Regions from separate parts of the Homo sapiens genome. Here all the other regions are linked to region 4. Evidence: fine-mapped expression QTL. A gene starts in region 4. Each other region holds a variant in brackets. All regions are shown on one strand. Distances are from middle to middle.

Region 1 (5,144 bases), 58 kb before region 4:
ACAGACTTGAAGTAGGGGAGGGATAGATTATTCTGCTTTTGTGTGTGCAGATGAGAGCTAAGACTCAAGTGAACTGACTTGCCTAAGGCTGCCCAGCAAGTTAGGGGTCCAAACTGGGTGTATTGAAAAGGCACAGATGTCATATATGCCAGTTAGGGGTAGTGAGTGATAGGCAGTTTTTTCTGAAAGTTTGGCCCTGTATGAGACGGCAGCTGTTACGGTGAGGGGTGAGGAAAGGGGAGGGCTGCCAATGTGCTTGCCTAATAGGGTTGGAACCCTGCTAGGACATGGCTTTGGAGCAGGGCGGACCTCGTCTTGAAGTCTGGCCGCACAGTCCTAAGCGGTATAGGATGGAGGGGGAATCCTTGAGTCTTGCCCAAGCTCCCACCTTTTCCATCTTCAGAGCGGTTTGAGGGGAGGGAGCGGCAGAGGAGGAATTCAGTTGAGGGTGCCATGCAAGCATCTACCAGGGCTGACCAGGTCGTGGGGGAGCCTGCTTCGGAGGAAGAGCCCAAAGGAGGAGTGGAATCCTGAGGCCTGGATTTGGCGAGGGTAGGAAGCCCGTGGGAAGGGAGGGTAGGGTCGCGGACAAGGTATGTGTATAGAAGGTGGAGAAGGATGAGGCCTGGAAGACTTGACTGTTGGCTGTCTGGACTTGATAATGCTGTTGTCTCTACCGGAAGGGAGCCCCGGGCCATTGGATCTTTGGGGGTGGGGGCCTCCGAGGGAGGGACTGGAAGCCAGTCGTAGCGCTGCATTTGAAATGTGAAAAATGGCTGCCTGGCACGTGCCTTTTCACAGGTGTCTCCATCTGTAACCTATCAAACTCCCAACTATGTACGTGAACGACTCTTGCACTTTGGTGACAGGCTTGGGGTCACCTCCTCTGCCTGTTGACGGCAGGCTGACCCTGCAAACTGCCCTTGGCTCACCAGGCTGCCCTGCAGGCTCTGGGGCAGCACCAGCAGCCTCTCACTCACACGGGGCTCGGGCACGAGGGGCGCTCTGAGGCCTCCTCCGGTGCGGTGGGCTCTTTGGAAGTTGACACAAGCTTCTGCACGCACCAGAGTGAAAAATAAATGATTTTATTGCAGGGCCAATGATAGGTAGTCACAAGGGCATGAAATGGCAGATCTCTTGTCTGAAGCAGAGAAGGCACACTGGCAGACTCCATGTGTGTCAAACGCTGTGCATGAATCAGGTTTTTAGAAGGAAGGTAGGAGAGGAAAACTACTCACTAGCAGAACTGAACTGCTGTAAAATAGGTTAAATTCTTTGAAAAGTGAAAAATGATAGTAGCAAAATCATGAAGTTGTATCTGAACCAGAGCCGTGATGTAACCAAGTAAGATGGAAGTTTCCATCCAGAGGAGTTAATTCCGAACAAGTCACAGAAAGGTGAGAGCTGCCGGTTCCGGCACGCTGTCTTCTGGAGTGCCAGTGACCGGGCAAGAAATTTGATTCTTTCCTTTGATACTCTTGGGAAAGAACACATTTCCCAAGCCCCTGGAGACCCACAGGGTTTGGCACTGTCCGTGAGGCTGTGCTCCTGAGGACGGACGTTCAGGAGGCCGTGGAGGAGCAGCGCTGCAGGAGCAGGGTGTGGCAGCTGTCGCACACTCGCACCGGCTTGGGGTAGGAGGGCAGGGCCAGCTCGTTGCTGGAGCAGGTGTTGCAGAAGATGTGGCCACAGTTCCGGCAGTGGTGCTACAGGACGGGAAGAAGGCGGTCACAGGACACCCGGGGAAAAGCCATCCGCACACCCTCCCTGCTTCCTGACCCAGAAGCGCATCATTTGCTGGGAATGGGTTCTTATGTTTCTGTGGGGTGGTGAGGGGCTGTGTGCAAACAAGGGTCTTTTTTTTTTTTTTTTTTTGAGATAGAGTCTTGCTCAGTCGCCCGGGCTGCAGTGCAGTGGCGCGATCTCAGCTCACTGCAAGCTCTGCCTCCCAGGTTCACGCCATTCTCCGGCAGTAGCTGGGTCTACAGGTGCCCGCCACTATACCTGGCTAATTTTTTGTATTTTTAGTAGAGACGGGGTTTCACCATGTTAGCCAGGATGGTCTCGATCTCCTGACCTCGTGATCTGCCTCCGCCTTGGCCTCCCAAAGTGTTGGGATTACAGGCGTGAAACACCGCGCCCGGCTTTTTTTTTTTTTTTTGAGTCTCTGTCGCCCAGGCTGGGGTGCAGTGGCGCAATCTCGGCTCACTGCAACCTCTGCCACCTGGGTTCAAGCGATTCTCCTGCCTCAGCCTCCCAAGTAGCTGGGATTACAAGTGCCTGCCACCGTGCCCGGTTAGTTTTTGTATTTTTTTAGTAGAGATGATGGGGTTTCACCATCTTGGCCAGACTGGTCTTGAACTTCTGACCTCGTGATCCACCCACCTCAGCCTCCCAAAGTGCTAGGATTACAGTCATGAGCCACCGTGCCCGGCCTAAGGGTGTTTTTAAGACAAAAAGTTTACTTTTGCTGTACTTCATCACTAAGCCAGTGAGCTGCTAGTCCATGTTACAGGAAGAGTCTGGTTCGTTCTCTTTGCTGCATTCCAAGGGGGTGGAGTAGATCCCTTTCTAAACAGGTTCCCTGGGTGCCTGATAAGACATCAAGATGAGCACCTGTGCAGCCTCTGCTTCTGACTCCACAGATGG[G/A]GACAGCCAGGCCTTGTAGACACATGTGATCTCAAAGGCAGCCTCAGGACGTGGTTTCTAGCTCTGAGCTTACTGCAAGGCACTGCCTGAAACTCGGGTTGGGGAGCGGGTGGGGTAGCTGTGGCTTCCTCTCTTCCACAGAGCTAGGCTGTTGATGGGAACAGACAGAACATGGCTGTGGCAGAAAGGTGGGTGGCGCTGGCAGTGTTTCCTTTAGCTCCCAGTTTTGCTTATACCCAACTCTTCCCCTACCCAGCTGGTCTTGGTGAGACTGTTAATAAGGCCCAGTCAACCCTAGACCCAAGGGTGAGCCTAGGACCTTGTTTCCAGAACCTAAAGGGCAGGGGCAAGCACGCTGCCTAGATCACTAGTGATTTTTGGTGACCTGCTGCCCTGTAGGTTCCCCATAGATTGTTTTTGCCTAAGTTGGGCCAGATTTTGTTCCTGCCGCATACAGAGAATTTTCAATGACACTCCCCTAGAGCAGCTCTGCACACAAGGAGCCCCATCTCCCCAAAAATCATTGTCAATCACTGAAAGGATGTGCTGGAGACCAGGGGCCTATGACTGGCCAAGGCCTCCCAGAAAGAGGGTGCCAGGATGGAAAGCCATCTGCACAGGCAAACAGGAGAGGCGGGGCTGCCCATCTGCCACAGTCAGCACAGTCACCGGGCAGTGAGCCTGCTCTGATATGGGCTTCTGGAACCAGAGAAAGGGGAATCCAGCGGGCAACGACTCAGGGCACTGGGAGGGTGGGTGGAGCCCCCACGTACCTTTCTCCGGGAAATGGAGAACTCCTTCTCACACTGCCTACAGTGTGTCGCTTCGTCATCTTTCAGCCAGGCGTGGCCCTGAAGAGGAAAGGACATTCTAGAATCCACTTTCTGTCTAAGCCCCTGATGAGTGGGTAGCTGCGTTCTGGCCACATCCATTGTCCCTCATAGCACCTGTTTCCTAGTGAGGCACTGTTTCTCCATCAGATGGGGCCTCACAGGACTGTCATCAAGGGGCTCTTTCCCCGTCTGGCCGCAGCCGGGATTTCTGCATCCTAGCTCCGTGCTCCACCTCTTGGCCTCTGCAGGCTGCCCTGGGGCCTCCAGGCGGTCTCCAGCATCTGCTCACTCAGGCACACTCCCACTTTCAATCAGTTCCCTTTGGCTGAAGTAAGCAGAGCGAGCTTCTGGTGCCTGCAACCCTAGACCCTGCCTGAGACACTGGCCGAAGTGCTAGCTGAACTGGCAGGCGCGGAAGAAGGGCCAAATCTGAGTGAGACTAAGACACTTGTTGACGCTGATCCTTGTGGAGAGACAGAAGGTGATGGACAGCGGGCACTGCGTCCCACAGGCCTGAGGAAGCCCTTCTCCATGCGGGCCAAAGCCCTGATTCTTGACCAGCCCTGGGGAGCACATGGACTCCATTCCACAGGGGAGGCGGCTGAGGCTTTGAAAGGTGGCCCCTCAGAGGGCTTTCTCAGGGCGAAGCAGCACCTGTGATTTATTTGGGCTTAGGGACTGGGGTGTTCCAGAGAAGTCAAAGGCATGAGGTACTTTTCTGGCCTGTTAACATCTGCTGGACAAGATTTTCTTGCTGACAAATAGATCCTCACAGACTGAGCTAGAGCCATATACCCTTGGGGCTGCCAGTGTGTGCCCAGGACATTCATCCTGACATCAAAGAGCTCTGGCGGCTCTAGAGTCCTGTTTTATGATTTCTATCCTCTGATGCTGTGAAACTGATATTACCTAGAAGTCCCGGCTGCTGTTAGTTGCTGCCCCTGACCTGGCACTTGGAAGTTAGATGCCCAGAGACATCAGGGTCCCTGCTCTGCACCACGTGGAACAGTGTGCAAAGGGACTGCTTTTGCATTGCTGCCACGGCACAGCTGAGGCCGAAGCGGGGTGCTCCTGCAGGCAAGGCTGTCTTGAAGGCCAGGCTGCCGTGCCCCCGAATGTCTGCCTCCTCTCCCACACTCTCCGCCCTGCAGCTCAGCCTGGCACCCGCACCCACACCGGGCCACCTGCAAACTCCTGCTTTTCGGTGGAATGTGTCATTCTGCCCTCCCCACCAGGGTGCGGAAACCTGGCCCAACTCAGGGCTTGGCTTGAGTGGTCCCTAGCAATGGCACAGGGCACTGCAGTGGGGCTGGCTGGCCTCTGGCCCCTCACTTCAACAGAAGGGCCTGTTTTCCACTGTTTAAAGATATCCGCGGGTCCCTCCTCTCCGCCACCTGCTTCCCCCTTAGGGAATGCCCATCAGGCCTATTTTGAAAGCACAGCTGATGGTGGAGGAACTGGAGTCGGAAGACCTAGGCTCAGCTTCGGCCACCTGTCAGCATCGCCCTCAGCCGAGGGACACGTTTCTGAGCAGCGTTTGGCTTCTCTGTCAATACGTCATCACCACTGCCTCAACCACACGCTCTCACCTGACTGTTGGGATACTTAAACGTACGAGCACACGGGCAGTCAGCACAAGCTGACAGCAAAGAAGTGGTTCTT
Region 2 (5,144 bases), 74 kb before region 4:
GCTGGAGTACAGTGGCAGGATCTCTGCTCACTGCAACCTCCACATCCTGGGTTCAAGTGATTCTCCTGCCTCAGCCTCCCAAGTAGCTGGGATTACAGGCGCCCACCACCATGCCCGGCTAATTTTTGTATTTTTGGTAGAGACAGGGTTTCACCATGTTGGCCAACATGTCTGAAACTCCTGACATCAAGTTATCCACCCACCTCAGCCTCCCAAAGTGCTGGGATTACAAGTGTGAGCCATTGCACCTGGCATATCCCAGCAATTTGGGAGATTGAGGCACAAGAATTGCTTGAACCCGGGAGGTGGAGGTTGCAGTGAGCCGAGATCACATACCTGCACTCCAACCTGAGTGACGAAGTGAGACCCTGTCTTAAAAAAAAAAAAGGCATAAATCAGGGCCGAGCATCATGGCTCACATGTAGAATAATCCCAGGGCTTTGAGAGGCCAAGGTGGGAGAATTGCTTGACGCCAGGAATTCAAGACTAGCCTGGGCAACATAGTGAGACCCCCATCACTACAAAAAAAAAAAAAATTAGTCGGGCCTGGTTGAAAGTGCCTTTAGTCCCAGCTACTCAGGAGGCTGAGCTTGGAGGATGGCTTGAGCCCAGGAGTTCAAGGCTGCAGTGAGTTATGATTGTGTCACTGCACGGAACAAGACATTGTCTGTAAAACAAACAAAAAATACCACCACAAAACCACAAAAATAATTAAAAGGTAAGCAAACTGAGAAGAATGTCTGGGGCAACTATCCTAAGGGCTAACAGCCTTAATAAAGAGCTCTGTAAACTGTAAGAAGTATACGAAGACATTAGCCGGGCGCAGTGGCTCACACCTATAATCCCAGCACTTTGGGAGCCCGAGGTGGGCGGATCATGAGGTTAGGAGATCGAGACCATCCTGGCTAACACGGTGAAACCCCGTCTCTAGTAAAAATACAAGAAAATTAGCTGGGCGTGGTGGCGGGCGCCTGTCGTCCCAGCTACTCTACTCGGGAGGCTGAGGCAGGAGAATGGTGTGAACCTGGGAGGCGGAGCTTGCAGTGAGCGGAGATCGCGCCATTGTACTCCAGCCTGGGCGACAGAGCGAGACTCCGTCTCAAAAAAAAAAAAAAAAAGAAGTATACCAAGACATAAAGACCACTGAGGCAAGATGATGAATTTTTTTTTTTTTTTTTAAAGACAGAGTCCTGCTCTGTTGCCCAGGCAGGAGTGCAGTGGTGCAATCTCTGCTCACTGCAACCTCCACCTCCCAGGTTCAAGTGATTCTCCTGCCTCAGCCTCCTGAGTAGCTGGGATTACAGGCACGCGACACCATGCCCGGCTACTTTTTGTATTTTTAGTAGAGACGGGGTTTCACCATGTTGGTCAGGCTGGTCTCTAACTCCTGAACTCTTGATCCACCTGCCTCGGCCTCCCAAAGTGCTGGGATTACAGGCATGAGCCCCACGCGTGGGCTGATGATTAACTTTTTATTTAAAAAAACCTTTGGCCGAGCATGGTGGCTCATGCTTGTAATCTCAGTACTTTGGGAGGCCGAGGCAGGCAGATCACTTGAGGTCAGGAGTTCCAGACCAGCCTGGCCAACATGGCAAAACCCCATCTCAACTAAAACTTAAAAAAAAGTAGCCAGGTGTGGTGGCACACACCTGTAATCCCTCTACTTGGGAGGCTAAGGCATGAGAATTGCTTGAACCTAGGAGGCAGAGGTTGCAGTGAGCCAAGATTGCACCACTGTACTCCAGCCTGGGTGACAGAGTTAGACTGTCTCAAAAACAAAACCAAACAAAAAAACCTTTCATTGCCAGCCATGGTGGCTCACACCTGTAATCCCAGCACTTTCTCTGCGAGGCTGAGGTGGAATGATTCCTTGAGCCCAAGAATTCAAGACCAGCCTGGGCAACAAAATGAGACCCCATTGCTACAAAAAATAAATAAATAAATAAATAAATAAATAAATAATCTGAGCAAGGTGGCACATGCCTGTGGTCCTACCTACTCAGGAGGCTGAGGCAGGAGGATTGTTTGAGCCCAGAAGGTAGAGGCTGTGGTGAGCCATGTTTGCACCACTGCACTCCAGCCTGGGTGACG[G/C]GCTGTGTCTCAAACAAACAAATAAAAAATAAAAATTTAAAAACCTTGTTTTAATATAAGTTGGACAATTTATATATAAGAGAATTGGCTATAAGTGTATGAAATGTATTCTACCTTACTACTATTCTTTTTTTTTTTTTTTTTGAGACGGAGTTTTGCTCTTATTGCCCAGGCTGGAGTGCAATGGCGTGATCTCAGCTGACTGCAACTGCTGCCTCCTGGGTTTAAGTGATTCTCCTGCCTCAGTCTTGCCAAGTGGTTGGGATTACAGGCATGCATCACCATGCCTGGCTAATTTTTTTTTTTTTTTTTTTTTGAGAGGGAGTCTTTGTAGCCCAGGCTGGAGGGCAGTGGTGTGATCTCAGCTCACTGCTTCCTCTGCCTCCTGGGTTCAGGTGATTCTCCTGCCTCAGCCTCCAGAGTAGCTGGGATTACAGGCGTGTGCATGCATAGATAATTTTTGTATCTTTAGTAGAGATGGGGTTTCACCATGTTGGCCAAGCTGGTCTGAAACTCCTGATCTCAAGTGATCTGCCTGCCTCGGCCTCCCAAAATGCTGGTATTACACGAGTGAGCCACCGCACCTGGCCGGACTCTCTTCTTGATTACCTCAGCCAAAGTGCCTTCTGAAATGGTACCACAGGTGTGTGCTTCTAGTTCAGTTTGTAGTAGAGGGCCTGGTATGTACCGTCATTCACCCTGCCTGCTCCATCTGCATCCCCCTCACATCCAGCAAGAGTTTTCCTTTACACAGGGTTTACGGCTCCCCTGCTGATCACCTGCCAAAGCCTTCTCTCGGAGATAACACCCTTGCCAAGGCCTAAGTGGCCTTTGAAGATCAGGCCCTGCTTAGCTCTGGGCTCCTGTCTTTCTTTTGATGTCCTCTCTACTTTTTCTCAAACCTGTCAAAACTGGATTCGGACTCTGTGGCACTGGGGTTGGAAACATGCTTTGTCCGCATCTTCCCAGGGTGGCACTCAGGCTTGCACTAGCTAAGGTAGCTCTGCGGCAGGGTCCAGCACTACCTTATTGTTAATTTGTGTATTGTCTGTGTCCACTAAAGCTGGGGTGAGGAAGGCAGCCAAATCAGACATGGGGAGGCCTGGGAGGCTACGGCATCTTAGGTTTTGGGCAGTGCTGCTAGAAACCACGAACATTAGTCATCTCGCAGCATGTGTGCACATGGGGTGACCCGGGGGCCTCCTCGAATGCAGCGTCTACGCCTGGTGAATGGACGCACTCTTACCAATTCTGCTCTGGGAGATGCAGCGGTAACCTACCGAGCGCAGAGGCCGGCGCGCACCCGTGGAGCCCGCGCTCGCGATCCCTCCTCGTGCCAGGGCCCCAGGGCAGTCAAGGCCTGCCGACCGTTAGGCGGGTCAAGGGGTACACAGGGTGCGAATTCGTTAGGCAAAAGCTGGGTACAGGCGCGAGCCACAGGCACGGAAACCTCGCGCCGACCGGGGCCCTAGGCCCGACGACGGCAGGTAAGGGGAAGTGGAGGCACACAGGGCTGGGACGTGCCCCAGGCACCATACGGGTGGCTTCGGGCGCGGGACGTCCGCAGCCCCGCAGCTCCCAGGACGTTCGACAATCTGCAGCTGACCAGCTTCGGCCGGTTTGGGGATAAAGGGAAGACAGGCGGCGCGGGGAGTGGGAACGCCTGAAGGCCGCGCCCCTCCTTTCAGGTCGGCCAGGAGCGCGCCGGTAAGAGCCTGGGGGCAAGGGGTAGAAAGACGCCCACCTCATCACAACCCAGAGCTCGGGACTCCTATACAGTCCCATAGGGAACAGGCGGCCGCCATTCCCCTCCCCCACGCTGGCGGGTAAGGCTAGAGAACGGTTTCAAGGAAGACGCATGCGCATGAAATAATTATAAACCGCTAGGACTCCGAAGTTCAATATTCGCGGGAAGGCGCAGGCGCAACAAAAAGCCCGGCGGGTTTATGGGTGGGGGTGCTGAGCCCAAAACCCAAGCGTGTAATAATCCGCCGGCGGGAGGTGGGCTGGCTCTTGAAATTACGCATGCGCCAGAGCTCTTTGTGACGCAACGGGGCGGTGCGGGCAGCTGGCTGCGCGTGCGCAGAACTCGCACAAGGGACCTTATTTAGGTTGCGCAGGCGCCCGCTGGCCATTTCGTCTTAGCCACGCAGAAGTCGCGTGTCTAGGTGAGTCGCGGTGGGTCCTCGCTTGCAGTTCAGCGACCACGGTGGGTACCGTTTTTGCGAGGATTGTTTGTCCCCATATCTCTGGGAGGGCCACGGGGACCTTGGCGAGCTGCAGGCTGCCGTCGAGAGCCGCGAGTGGTTCGCTGAATCTCGGCACCGCCGCTGAGGCCTGCAGGCCGCGCCGACTCTATTGTGTGAGAAGTCGGAGGAGGCGGAGCGGAAGCGGCCGCCGCCATTTCCTTTCCTCTACGCTGGCTCTCGGCCCGGGCCCCCACGGTTCGGGGCGCCGACAGCTGTTGCTCAGGACAGCTTTGGGGGTCCGGTCGCCGGACGAGGAGGTGTTGGAGTCGCCGGGGTGGGTGCATCCGCCCGGTTTTTGCTCCGTGGGGGGGCGGTGCGGGCCCGGGCGCGCCTCGGAGGCGAAGGACAGCTTAATTGGCGCTCTCAGTTCTGGTCCTCCCCGCTTTGCAGTTTGTTTCGACGCCGGACCGCGTAAGAGACGATGATGTTGGGCACGGAAGGTGGAGAGGGATTCGTGGTGAAGGTCCGGGGCTTGCCCTGGTCTTGCTCGGCCGATGAAGTGCAGAGGTTTTTTTCTGGTGAGTTAGAACTAGGACGCGGGAGTTCGAGTTCGAGGCCGGGGCGGGCGGGCTGGCGGGCGGCCGGGCTGGGGCGGGGCGGGGCGGGGCGGGCCGGGCCGGGCCGGGCCGGGTGGGACCCGGGGCGCCCCCTGGCGAGGCGCGGGCGACTACACTCACCGCTGTGCTGCTCGCGCCCGGCGGCCCGCTGTTACGCAATGGAAATTTCGAAAGCCCCGCCCGTCCTCCTGGCCCTTGGGGGAGTGCGGCAGGTTTGGCAGACTTTGTTTTCTTTACCTATCTTTGA
Region 3 (5,144 bases), 37 kb after region 4:
CAGCCTCATGGAGGGGTAACTGACATACAAGAGAACAAGCCAGGCATGGTGGCTCACGCCGTAATCCCAGCACTTTGGGAGGCCGAGGTGGGTGAATCACCTGAGGTCAGGAGTTCGAGACCAGCCTGACCAACACAGTGAAACCGCATCTCTACTAAAACTACAAAAAATTAGCCAGGCATGGTGGCGGGCACCTGTAATCCCAGCTACTCTGGAGGCTGAGGCGGGAGAATCACTTGAACCCAGGAGGTGGAGGTTGCAGTGAGCCGAGATCGTGCCACTGCACTCCAGCCTGGGCAACAAGAGCGAAACTCCATCTCAAAAAAAACAAATTTTTTTGATCAATGTTAACACACGTACGCACCCGCAAAACCATGACCAGGAGCATCACGACTCCCAAAGCTTCCTCATGATTCTTTGGAATCCCTCCCTACAGCCCCTCCCACCCCCCCCCATCCCAAGCAGCCACTGATTTGCTTTCTGTCACAGTCAGTAGATTTGCAATTTCCTTAATACCATGTCTGAGCCCAGTAGGCAAATACTTTCTTTTTATTGGGTGGACATTTCGTGGCATGTTCAAGCTTTTGAATTCAGAGAGTGAGAGGATGAGAAAGAAAAGGCTGGTCTGGGTCACTCCTGGGAGGCCTGGCCCTAAGCACCGTGTGGCTCATGTGCCCTGGAGCCCCTGTGCACCGGTCATCCCTGACTGCCCTGCCGCAAGCTTTATAGCTCCCCCATCACCTTTCCCGGACCAGCTGGTACAATCTCAAACTTTTCACCAATTCTGACATCTAAACAACTAACGCCAGAGACAGGCTCTGTGGGACCAGCAGCTGCGACCTCACCTCCGGTCACTGGAACACTGAGCTGTTAAATGAAAGGTGCGTCCTTCTTTCTCCCTTTCCAGGGAGAATGCTCTGCTCTTCTTCCTGCTGGATCCCTCCTCTACCTGCTTCTCTCCCACCTCCTGCAGCCCCCGGAGCCCCGTGGCGATGCAGGCAGACTCATCTGTACCCTCATTCTGTTTGCAGAACCACATCTCTGGGCTGGCTCTGCCCAAGGACACCACACCTTCTCCATTCCTCTTGCCCTTTCCCCGTGGGGTGCAGGTGGGGCTGGGCCCACGATGGCATCAGGCCCACTCTCTCTAATGCAGGAAGGGATCAGATGCCGGGAGCCATGGAGATTGTCCTCATCCCGATCATCTCCCAGCTTAGCAAATGATGATGAAGACAGTTTTCCCACAAGATAGGCATAGCCTCTGGGACAGTGCCTCGTTTATTTTCTAGCACAAAATAGACGTTAGAACAGTGGGGCTTTGTGGGCATATGGAGATTTTTAAGGCTCCTTAGGAGGCAGGTAAAAATTTCTTCAATAAGACAAAACACTATCCCCAAAGAAAATGATTGATAAATGTGGGGAAAAGCAAGAGAGATCAGATTGTTACTGTGTCTGTGTAGAAAGAAGTAGACATGGGAGACTCCATTTTGTTCTGTACTAAGAAAAATTCTTCTGCCTTGGGATGCTGTTAATCTATAACCTTACCCCCAATCCCGTGCTCTCTGAAACGTGTGCTGTGTCAACTCAGAGTTAAATGGATTAAGGGCGGTGCAAGATGTGCTTTGTTAAACAGATGCTTGAAGGCAGCATGCTCCTTAAGAGTCATCACCACTCCCTAATCTCAAGTACCCAGGGACACAAACACTGCGGAAGCCCGCAGGGACCTCTGCCTAGGAAAGCCAGGTATTGTCCAAGGTTTCTCCCCATGTGATAGTCTGAAATATGGCCTCGTGGGAAGGGAAAGACCTGACCGTCCCCCAGCCCGACACCCGTAAAGGGTCTGTGCTGAGGAGGATTAGTATAAGAGGAAGGCATGCCTCTTGCAGTTGAGACAAGAGGAAGGCATCTGTCTCCTGCCTGTCCCTGGGCAATGGAATGTCTCGGTATAAAACCCGATTGTATGCTCCATCTACTGAGATAGGGAAAAACCGCCTTAGGGCTGGAGGTGGGACCTGCGGGCAGCAATACTGCTTTGTAAAGCATTGAGATGTTTATGTGTATGCATATCTAAAAGCACAGCACTTAATCCTTTACATTGTCTATGATGCAAAGACCTTTGTTCATGTGTTTGTCTGCTGACCCTCTCCCCACAATTGTCTTGTGACCCTGACACATCCCCCTCTTCGAGAAACACCCACAAATGATGAATAAATGCTAAGGGAACTCAGAGGCTGGCGGGATCCTCCATATGCTGAACGCTGGTTCCCCGGGTCCCCTTATTTCTTTCTCTATACTTTGTCTCTGTGTCTTTTTCTTTTCCAAATCTCTCGTCCCACCTTACGTGAAACACCCACAGGTGTGTAGGGGCAACCCACCCCTACAGATACATTGGATGATAGTAAAATTAAGAATTTTTTCATCAATAAGAGAGTAAAAAGATGGGGCCGGGTGTGGTGGCTCACGCTGTATCCCAGCACTTTGGGAGGCCAAGGCGGGAGGATCACTTGAGGTCAGGAGTTAGAGAACAGCCTGAGCAGCTTAGCAAGACCTCGTCTCTACGAAAAATGAAAAATTGGCTGGGCGTGGTGGTGCATGCCTGTGGTCCCAGATACTTGGGAGGCTGAGGCAGGAGGAACACTTGAGCCTGGGAGGCTGAGGCTGCAGTGAGCCATGATTGTGCCACTGCACTGCAGCCTGGGTGACAGAGTGAGACTCTGTCTCTTAAAAAAAGAGGTGGGGAATGGAGGAGGGT[G/A]AAAAGATAAATCACATGTAGAGTATAAAGAGAATTCCTGTAAGTTAATAAGAAAAATGCATGCGGGACTTAATACCTAGGTGACGGGTGGATAAGTGCAGCAAACCACCATGGCACATGTTTACCTGTGTAACAAACCTGCACGTTCTGTACATGTATCCCAGTACTTAAATAAAGTTTTTTAAAAAATTAAGAAAAAAGCTGGCAGACCAATAGGACAATGGGTGAAAGAAATGAAGAGGGACAAAAAAGGGAAGGAAGAAAGGGAGGGAGGGGGGAGGGAGGAGGGGGGAAGGGAGAGGAAAGAGCAAATGAACATCCAAATGGCCAAAAAGCATTTAAAACATGCTCAGCCTCATAAGCCATCAAATTTAAACCACAGTGAGAAACCAATATTACACCTACCAGAATTGCTAAAATTAAAAACACTGTTGATACCAAGTTTGGGCAAGAATGTGGAGTAACTGAAACTTCATATACTATTGGGAATGTAAAATAGCACAACTACTTTGGAAAACCCTTGGGTAATACCTACTAAAGGAGACCACACATGTGATCCCCACATTCCACTCTTACGCATAGACCCAAAAGAACTGTGCACTGTGCACGTGTTCACCAAATGACGTGCGACGTGCACTAGGATGTTTATACCAGCACCCTTCACAATAGCCCCAAATTCCAACAGGAGAGTGGATAAGTACCTCTCAGTATATTTATAGAGTAAAATTCTTACAGCACTGAAAATGGATTCACAGCCACCATGCACAGTTGGTGAATCTCAGCAACATACTGTTGAGCAGAAGCAGCCAGACACAAATGAATGCGTACGGCACGATTCTGTTTCTGCGAAGCCCTAAAACAGGCCAAAGAAACATCTGGTGAGAAGTCAGGATAGCGATTATCTTAGTGCTCTGGGGGAGGGTGGCTCTGGTAATATTCTATTTCTTGATCTGAGGGCTGGTGTCCCAGACGTATTCACTCTACGATAATTTACCAAGCTGCCCTCTGGGGATTGGTGGCTTCTCTGTATGAATATTACACTCAATTAAAAAAACACACTCAATAACAAAAACCTAACAATCAAATTCAGAAATGAGCAAGGCTGGGCGCGGTGGCTCACGCCTGTAATCCTCGCACTTTGAGAGGCCGAGGCGGGCAGATCACCTGAAGTCAGGAGTTCGAGACCAGCCTGGCCAACATGGTGAAACCCGTCTCTACTAAAACTACAAAAATTAGCCGGGTGTGGTGGCACATGCCTGTAATCTCAGCTATTTGGGAGGCTGAAGCAGGAGACTCGCTTAAACCTAGGAGGTGGAAGTTTCAGTGAGCCGAGATCACGCCACTGCACTCCAGCCTGGGTGACAGAGTGAGACTCTGTCTTAAAAAAAAAAAAAAAAAAAAAAAAAAAGGCTGGGCGCGGTGGCTCACACCTGTAATCCCAGCACTTTGGGAGGCCAAGGCGGGCGGATCACAAGGGCAAGAGATGGAAACCATCCTGGCTAACACGGTGAAACCCCTTTTCTACTAAAAATACAAAAAATTAGCCAGGCGTGGTGGCGGGCGCCTGTAGTACGAGCTACTCAAGAGGCTGAGGCAGGAGAATGGTGTGAACCCGGGACGCGGAGCTTGCAGTGAGCCAAGATCGCGCCACTGCACTCCAGCCTGGGTGACAGAGCGAGACTCCCTCTCAAAAAAAAAAAAAAAAAAAAAAAAGAGCAAAGGACTCGAATGGACATTTCTCCATACTCAGCATCACTAATCATTAGGGAGATGGAAATGACAACGAGATTCCTTTTCACTCCTACTACATTGACTAGTATCAAAGAAAACCCAGAATATAACGAATGTTGGTAAGGATGTGGAGAGACTGGAACCCTTGTGCACTGCTGGTGGGAATGTAAAATAGTGCCGCCCCTCTAGAAAACAGTAAGGCAGTTCCTCGGAAATTACACCTAGGGACGCTCCAGCAATTCCACTTCTGGGTATATATCCCCCAAAAATTGAAAGCAAGGAAATAAAGAGACACTTGCCCATCCCTGTCGATAGCTGTGTTATTCACAATAGATAAAAGGTGGGAGCAACTCAGCCGGGTGCGGTGGCTCACGCCTGTAATCTCAGCACTTTGGGAGGCTGAGGCAGGCGGATCATGAGGTCAGGAGTTCGAGACCAGTCTGACCTACATGGTGAAACTCCATCTCTACTAAAAATACAAAAAAAAATGGCCAGGCGCGGTGGCTTATGCCTGTAATCCCAACACTTTGGGGGGCCGAGGCAGGCAGATCACCTGAGGTCAGGAGTTTGAAACCAGCCTGGCCAGCACGGTGAAACCCTGTCTCTACTAAAAATACAAAAAAATTAGCTGGGCGTGGTGGTGGGAGCCTGTAGTCCAAGC
Region 4 (5,144 bases):
CGGCCTCCCAAAATGCTGGGATTACAGGTGTGAGCCACCATGCCCGGCCTAGTTTTTTAAATCCATATGGGATATATATATAGACATTTTGCAGTTGGTGAAGTTACTTCTCTTTAATACTCTCTTTATAAAATAGGGATAATAATGGTACTCATCACCCTGTGCCATCTACATGATTTACAAGGCCCAGTGCAAAATTCCCGGCCTGGAGCAGAGCACAGAAGTCAGACTCCCCCTTACTACAGCCCTAATGGATTGCAACTTCCCTGCAGGGATGGGACAGGTGAGAGGCCCCTGCCCACTTGCCTGCCTAATGTGCTGTGGTACCAGCCACCCTGCCCTGAGATTCGGAGGGTGCAATCCCAACGCTGCCTGGGCAAGAGTGGGATCAGGGAGGGTAGGGAGAAGCCCCAGGGCAGCTCGAGTGGGCCAGGGCAACTGAGAACCTGTCCCATTGGACTTCACTTAAAAAACACAAATTCAAAGATAAAATTAAGAATTTCAAGCATGGGATACTTCTGAGTGCCTGGCCCTTTCCACCAGAGTGATCAAAGCCTGCATTGACTGTCCACCCATGAAGCTAGTCCTGCTATCACATAGGGTTGTTGTGAGGAATGAATGAATACTTGTACAGGTTTAAGACTAATGCCTGGCACCTTTGAAGGACAATATAAGTGTTGGCTATTGTTTCTATCACTTCCATAGATGGAACACAGGTATTTTTCAAATATGCATTTGTTCAGCAAACACTTATTATTCTGTGCCAGGTACTGACACATTTCATTTTATCTTTTTAATTTTTTCCTTGATTCTGCATTAAAGGAAAGAAATTCTAGCAGGGAAGAACTTTTATTATTTGCTTACTCCTGCCACGAAATATCTAAGAGGCCTCCAGGAGACGCCATGCCTTGACTTTCAGTACTGACTGTCAATGAGTATGCAACTCAGCATCCACTGATGTGTGGAAAAGTCTCGGGAAAAGGTGTCAAGCTAGAGGGCAGTAGATTCCCGGCCTGCCCAGGCTCTCATCATCCTCTAATGCTATTTTCCACTGCCAGGATCTCAAAACGAGTCAGCCTTTCAACTTTACTCAGTAATTATTCTTGACCACTGAAAATCTCACAATTCACTACCTGGGGTCAGTGCATCTACAGCAAAGGTACCAGTGGATGGGGAGGAATCAGGAAGCCTCGAGTGTGTGCTATGATGCTCCTTGGAAGGCACCACAACCTTTCCTCAGCTCTGTCCCAGCATTTTCTATGAAGTTGGCAATGTTCTATTATGTGCTATCTCATACAGTAGCCACTGGCCACACACAGGCTACTGAGCATTTAAAATGTGGCCGCTGTAATCGAGGAACAAGTTTTTTTTTTTTTTTTTTTTTTTGAGACAGAGTCTCGCTCTGTCACCCAGGCTGGAGTGCAGTGGCGCGATCTCGGCTCACTGCAACCTCTGCCTCCCAGGTTCAAGCGATTCTCCTGCCTCAGCCTCCTGAGTAGCTGGGACTACAGGTGCATGCCAACACACCCAGCTAATTTTTTGTATTTTTAGTAGAGACGGGGTTTCACCATGTTGGCCAGGATGGTCTCGATCTCTTGACCTCGTGATCCACCCGCTTCGGCCTCCCAAAGTGCTGGGATTACAGGCGTGAGCCACCGCTCCCGGCCGAGGAACTCAATTTTTAATTCAATTTAAAAGTACTGAATTTCAATTGATTCAGTTAGAAATTGAGGAATCCGGCCGGGCGCGGTGGCTCAAGCCTGTAGTCCCAGTACTTTACGAGGCCGAGGCAGGTGTATCACAAGGTCAGGAGTTCAAGACCAGCCTGGCCAAGATGGTGAAACCCCGTTTCTACTAAAAATATGGGAGGGGGGTGGGGGCGGGGAACTTAGCCGAGCGTGGTGGTGGGCACCTGTAATCCCAGCTACTCGGGAGGCTGAGGCGGGAGGGAGGATCGCTTGAACCCGGGAGGCAGAGGGTGCAGTGAGCCGAGATCGCACCACTGCACTCCAGCCTGGGCGACAGAGCAAGACCCGGTCTCAAAAAAATAAAAATAAATAAAAACAAAAACACACACACAAAAACATATGCGTGCTGTTGTATTGGATAGCACAGCTCTGGATGTCTGGCGTTAGAGGGCTAAGTTACTTAACTCTTACTATCACTGATATGCTGGCACTCTGTTCATTACAAGGGCTGAAAAGGTCTTTAAGAGATCATCGGGTGACTTTAAAATCCCCATCTCACAGGCAGAGGTGAGCGGAGGCGCCGCTGGTCCGCTGCGCGCAGGGCCCACGCCCTCCCAACACCCGCCGGCGCTCCACTCCCGCACTGAACGGCTGAAAAGCAGAACAGTGCTGGCTCCGTTTCGTGTGTGGAGTTACTACAGAGTTCCGAAGCCCGGACGCGCACACGTCCTTCACCTAGTTAGTGGGAGAGCATAGAGGCGCGGGTGCGGGAGCGCGCTCAGGCACGCGGGGCTGCGGGGGGCGGTCTCGGCTGGGCCGCCGGAGTAAAGACCCAGGCGCAGCCAGGCGCCGCCCGCCCGCCAACAGCTCGCGTAACCTCCCGGAACGGCCAGTGCCCTCCCAGCCCGGCCCCCACCGCGCCCGCGCCGGCGGCCAGCGGGGACACGCGAGTCCGCCGCGGGACAGACCCGGCCCGAGCCTACCTGCGCGCGCCGTGCCGTCCCCGCTGTCCCCGCCGCCCAGCCCCGCGGCCGCGCGCAGCGCGCTCCCGCAGCTCGCCGACAGGTTCCCGGTGGCCCTGCGTGCCAGGGTCAGGATGGGCGCCGACCAGCCCTCGGCCGCCCGCGGCCTCGTTGCGCTCCGCAGGTCGCCTGGGCCGGGCAGCTGGCTTCGGTCCACGATCTCAAACTCTTCTCCCGGCTCAAGCGCTGACCCGGGCCCCGGCCCCGGCTCCAGCTCCGGCTCCAGCTCCCGCCCCCGCCCAGCAGCGCAGCCGCCTTCCCGGTCGGCCATCTTGGCCGTGTCATGTGACCCAGCGGGCGGGCGGGCGCGGGGTGGGGGCGGGCGGGCATCGCCTTTGCCTTAGGTGGGGGAGATTTTTCTCCCTCTTCACCGCCTCGCCTTCCCTCTGTTTCGAAAGGTTCGGGAAAGTCCAAGTCATAACATAAAAAGTGTGCGTATTCCCGGCCGCCGGCAGGACCTGTTCGCGGGGAAGTTCCTCTTGAACTTTCTCCGAGGACAGTTGTGCACCCTGCCCGGCGCTTCACGGGGTTCCCTGGCCGTCGTTGTCTTTGTGACACCATTTCCTCTTTTAAATTTTCATTTCATGGTCTATATTTTCCACTTCGTCATTTTTCTGTAGCACTCATTAGAACAAGCCCCGAAAGGGCGACTAAGGAAACGCACAGGCGAGGCAGGAAAGCAGGAATTTTTTTTTTTTTTTAATCTAATGACTATGACGGCTTGGCAAGAAAGAGTGCACGATAGTGGACTGGAAATCAGAGGTGGCTTCTCCTATTGATTAGTTAAGTGGGATAACAAAAACCGACCTCATTATTAAATAAGATTTGCAGTAAGGACCACATGGCAGATGTTAGCGATTGTGACTACTATCTCTGGTATCCAACTGTGTGGCCTGGGTAAGTCACTATACACTCAGTCTGTTTCTTCACTTGGAAAAGAAAGGAATTTGAGTAAGTACAAAGGAAAATTTTGGCCGGGCGCGGTGGCTCACGCCTGTAATCCCAGCACTTCGGAAGGCCCAGGCGGGCCTTTAGTAGGACGAAACCCCGTCTCTACTAAAATACCAAAACAACAACAACAACAACAACAAAAAACCAGCCAGATGTCGTGGCGGGACAGCTCTACTCCTAGCTCCTTGGGGGGCTGAGAGTGGGAGGATCGCTTGAGCCCGGGAGGTCGATCCCACAGTGAGCGGAGATCATGGCCACTGCACTCCAGGCTGGGCGACAAAGTGAGACCCTGTCTCAGAAAAAACACTAAAATTTACTAGCACTTAACACTTTGCAAAGTGAGGCAACATGAGCCACACCAAACCAGCAGAGCTGTTTTGATTCCCAGAATGTTTACAAATCTTAAAACTTGTTGCCAATATTTAGAAATCAAAAGATTTCACATAAGAATCTGGATTTTAGCTTTCTCTGGAATCACTGGAATATTTGGTAACTCATGGCATATTCCCAGATGGCAACAAACTGTTGGGAATAAACTGTGCTGCCCCTTTAGACGCCCAGCTGCTCCCTGGACCTGTCTTGGTCCAGCCCACTTCACTAGGTTGCATGATATGTCTGGTCCCTGAAAGGCCAGTTCTCAGTGAAGGGATACCACTTCATCTAGGAGTGTTTTGGGAATTTGTGGAGTTGGTGTTTGAGTTGTGTAATGACTGAGGGCATACTACCAGTCTTTTTTGTTTGTTTGTTTTCGTACGGAGTCTCGCTCAGTCGCCCAGGCTGGAGTGCAGTGGCGCGATCTCGGTTCACTGCAAGCTCCACCTCCCGGGTTCACGCCATTCTCCTGCCTCAGCCTCCCGAGTAGCTGGGACTACAGGTGCCCGCCACCACGCCCGGCTAATTTTTTTTTTTTTTTGTATTTTTAGTAGAAACGGGGTTTCACCGTGTTAGCCAGGATGGTCTTGATCTCCTGACCTCGTGATCCGCCAGCCTCGGCCTCCCAAAGTGCTGGGATTAGAGGCGTGAGCCACCACGCCCGGCCTGGTCTTGTTTGTTTGTTTGTTTTTGAGGCCAAGTCCTGCTCTGTCACCAAGCTGGAGTGCAGTGGCGCAATCTCGGCTCACTGTAACCTCTGCCTACCGGGTTCAAGCGATTTTCCTGCCTCAGCCTCCCAAGTAGCTGGGACTGCAGGGGCGTGGCGCCACACTTGGCTAATTTTTGTACTTTTAGTAGAGACGGGGTTTCACCATGTTCGCCAGGATAGTCTCGATCTCTCGACCTCGTGATTCCCCCGCCTCGGCCTCTCAAAGTGTTGAGATTACAGGCGTGAGCCACTGAGCCCGGCCCTACTAGTCTTTACTGGATGCATAGACAGGGATGAAGATAGTCTAGAATAACAGCATTGTCCCGAATCCTTCATGACTTTCCAATGCTACTGGACATTTATGTAGGTGAAAAGTTTGTTTATAATGATCAGGGCGTGGAA

The links.
Region 1: its variant is fine-mapped to the expression of RUFY1 in whole blood (TOPMed, PIP above 0.99).
Region 2: its variant is fine-mapped to the expression of RUFY1 in whole blood (INTERVAL, PIP above 0.99).
Region 3: its variant is fine-mapped to the expression of RUFY1 in transverse colon (GTEx, PIP above 0.99). The same link has a PIP of 0.9 or more in coronary artery.

Annotation. Positions count from the first base shown.
Region 1 is chr5:179,605,938-179,611,081 of GRCh38, reverse strand. RUFY1 (RUN and FYVE domain containing 1) reads right to left here. Exons shown (of 18, transcript NM_025158.5): 17 at 3,423-3,500; 18 at 1,070-1,706. The coding sequence ends at 1,563. All of the region lies in intron 4 of LOC128966623 (a long non-coding RNA gene), which reads right to left. Among named protein-coding and RNA genes, the nearest start is that of RUFY1-AS1, 4.8 kb to the right of the region's middle. RefSeq lists enhancers at 3,205-3,264, 3,332-3,832, 3,833-4,333. The variant G/A (reference allele first, on the strand shown) is at 2,650.
Region 2 is chr5:179,622,751-179,627,894 of GRCh38, reverse strand. It overlaps HNRNPH1 (heterogeneous nuclear ribonucleoprotein H1), which reads left to right and starts at 4,224. Exons shown (of 14, transcript NM_001257293.2): 1 at 4,224-4,300; 2 at 4,731-4,858. The coding sequence starts at 4,762. All of the region lies in intron 4 of LOC128966623 (a long non-coding RNA gene), which reads right to left. RefSeq lists enhancers at 2,613-3,397, 3,398-4,183, 3,933-4,227, 4,283-4,452. The variant G/C (reference allele first, on the strand shown) is at 2,092.
Region 3 is chr5:179,511,201-179,516,344 of GRCh38, reverse strand. It overlaps the pseudogene LOC100128622. Among named protein-coding and RNA genes, the nearest start is that of RUFY1, 37 kb to the left of the region's middle. RefSeq lists an enhancer at 1,374-2,221. The variant G/A (reference allele first, on the strand shown) is at 2,753.
Region 4 is chr5:179,548,407-179,553,550 of GRCh38, reverse strand. It overlaps RUFY1 (RUN and FYVE domain containing 1), which reads right to left and starts at 2,997. Exons shown (of 18, transcript NM_025158.5): 1 at 2,672-2,997. The coding sequence starts at 2,981. All of the region lies in intron 4 of LOC128966623 (a long non-coding RNA gene), which reads right to left. It overlaps LOC105377762 (a long non-coding RNA gene), which reads left to right and starts at 3,047. Exons shown (of 4, transcript XR_941315.4): 1 at 3,047-3,607. RefSeq lists a silencer at 2,363-3,072.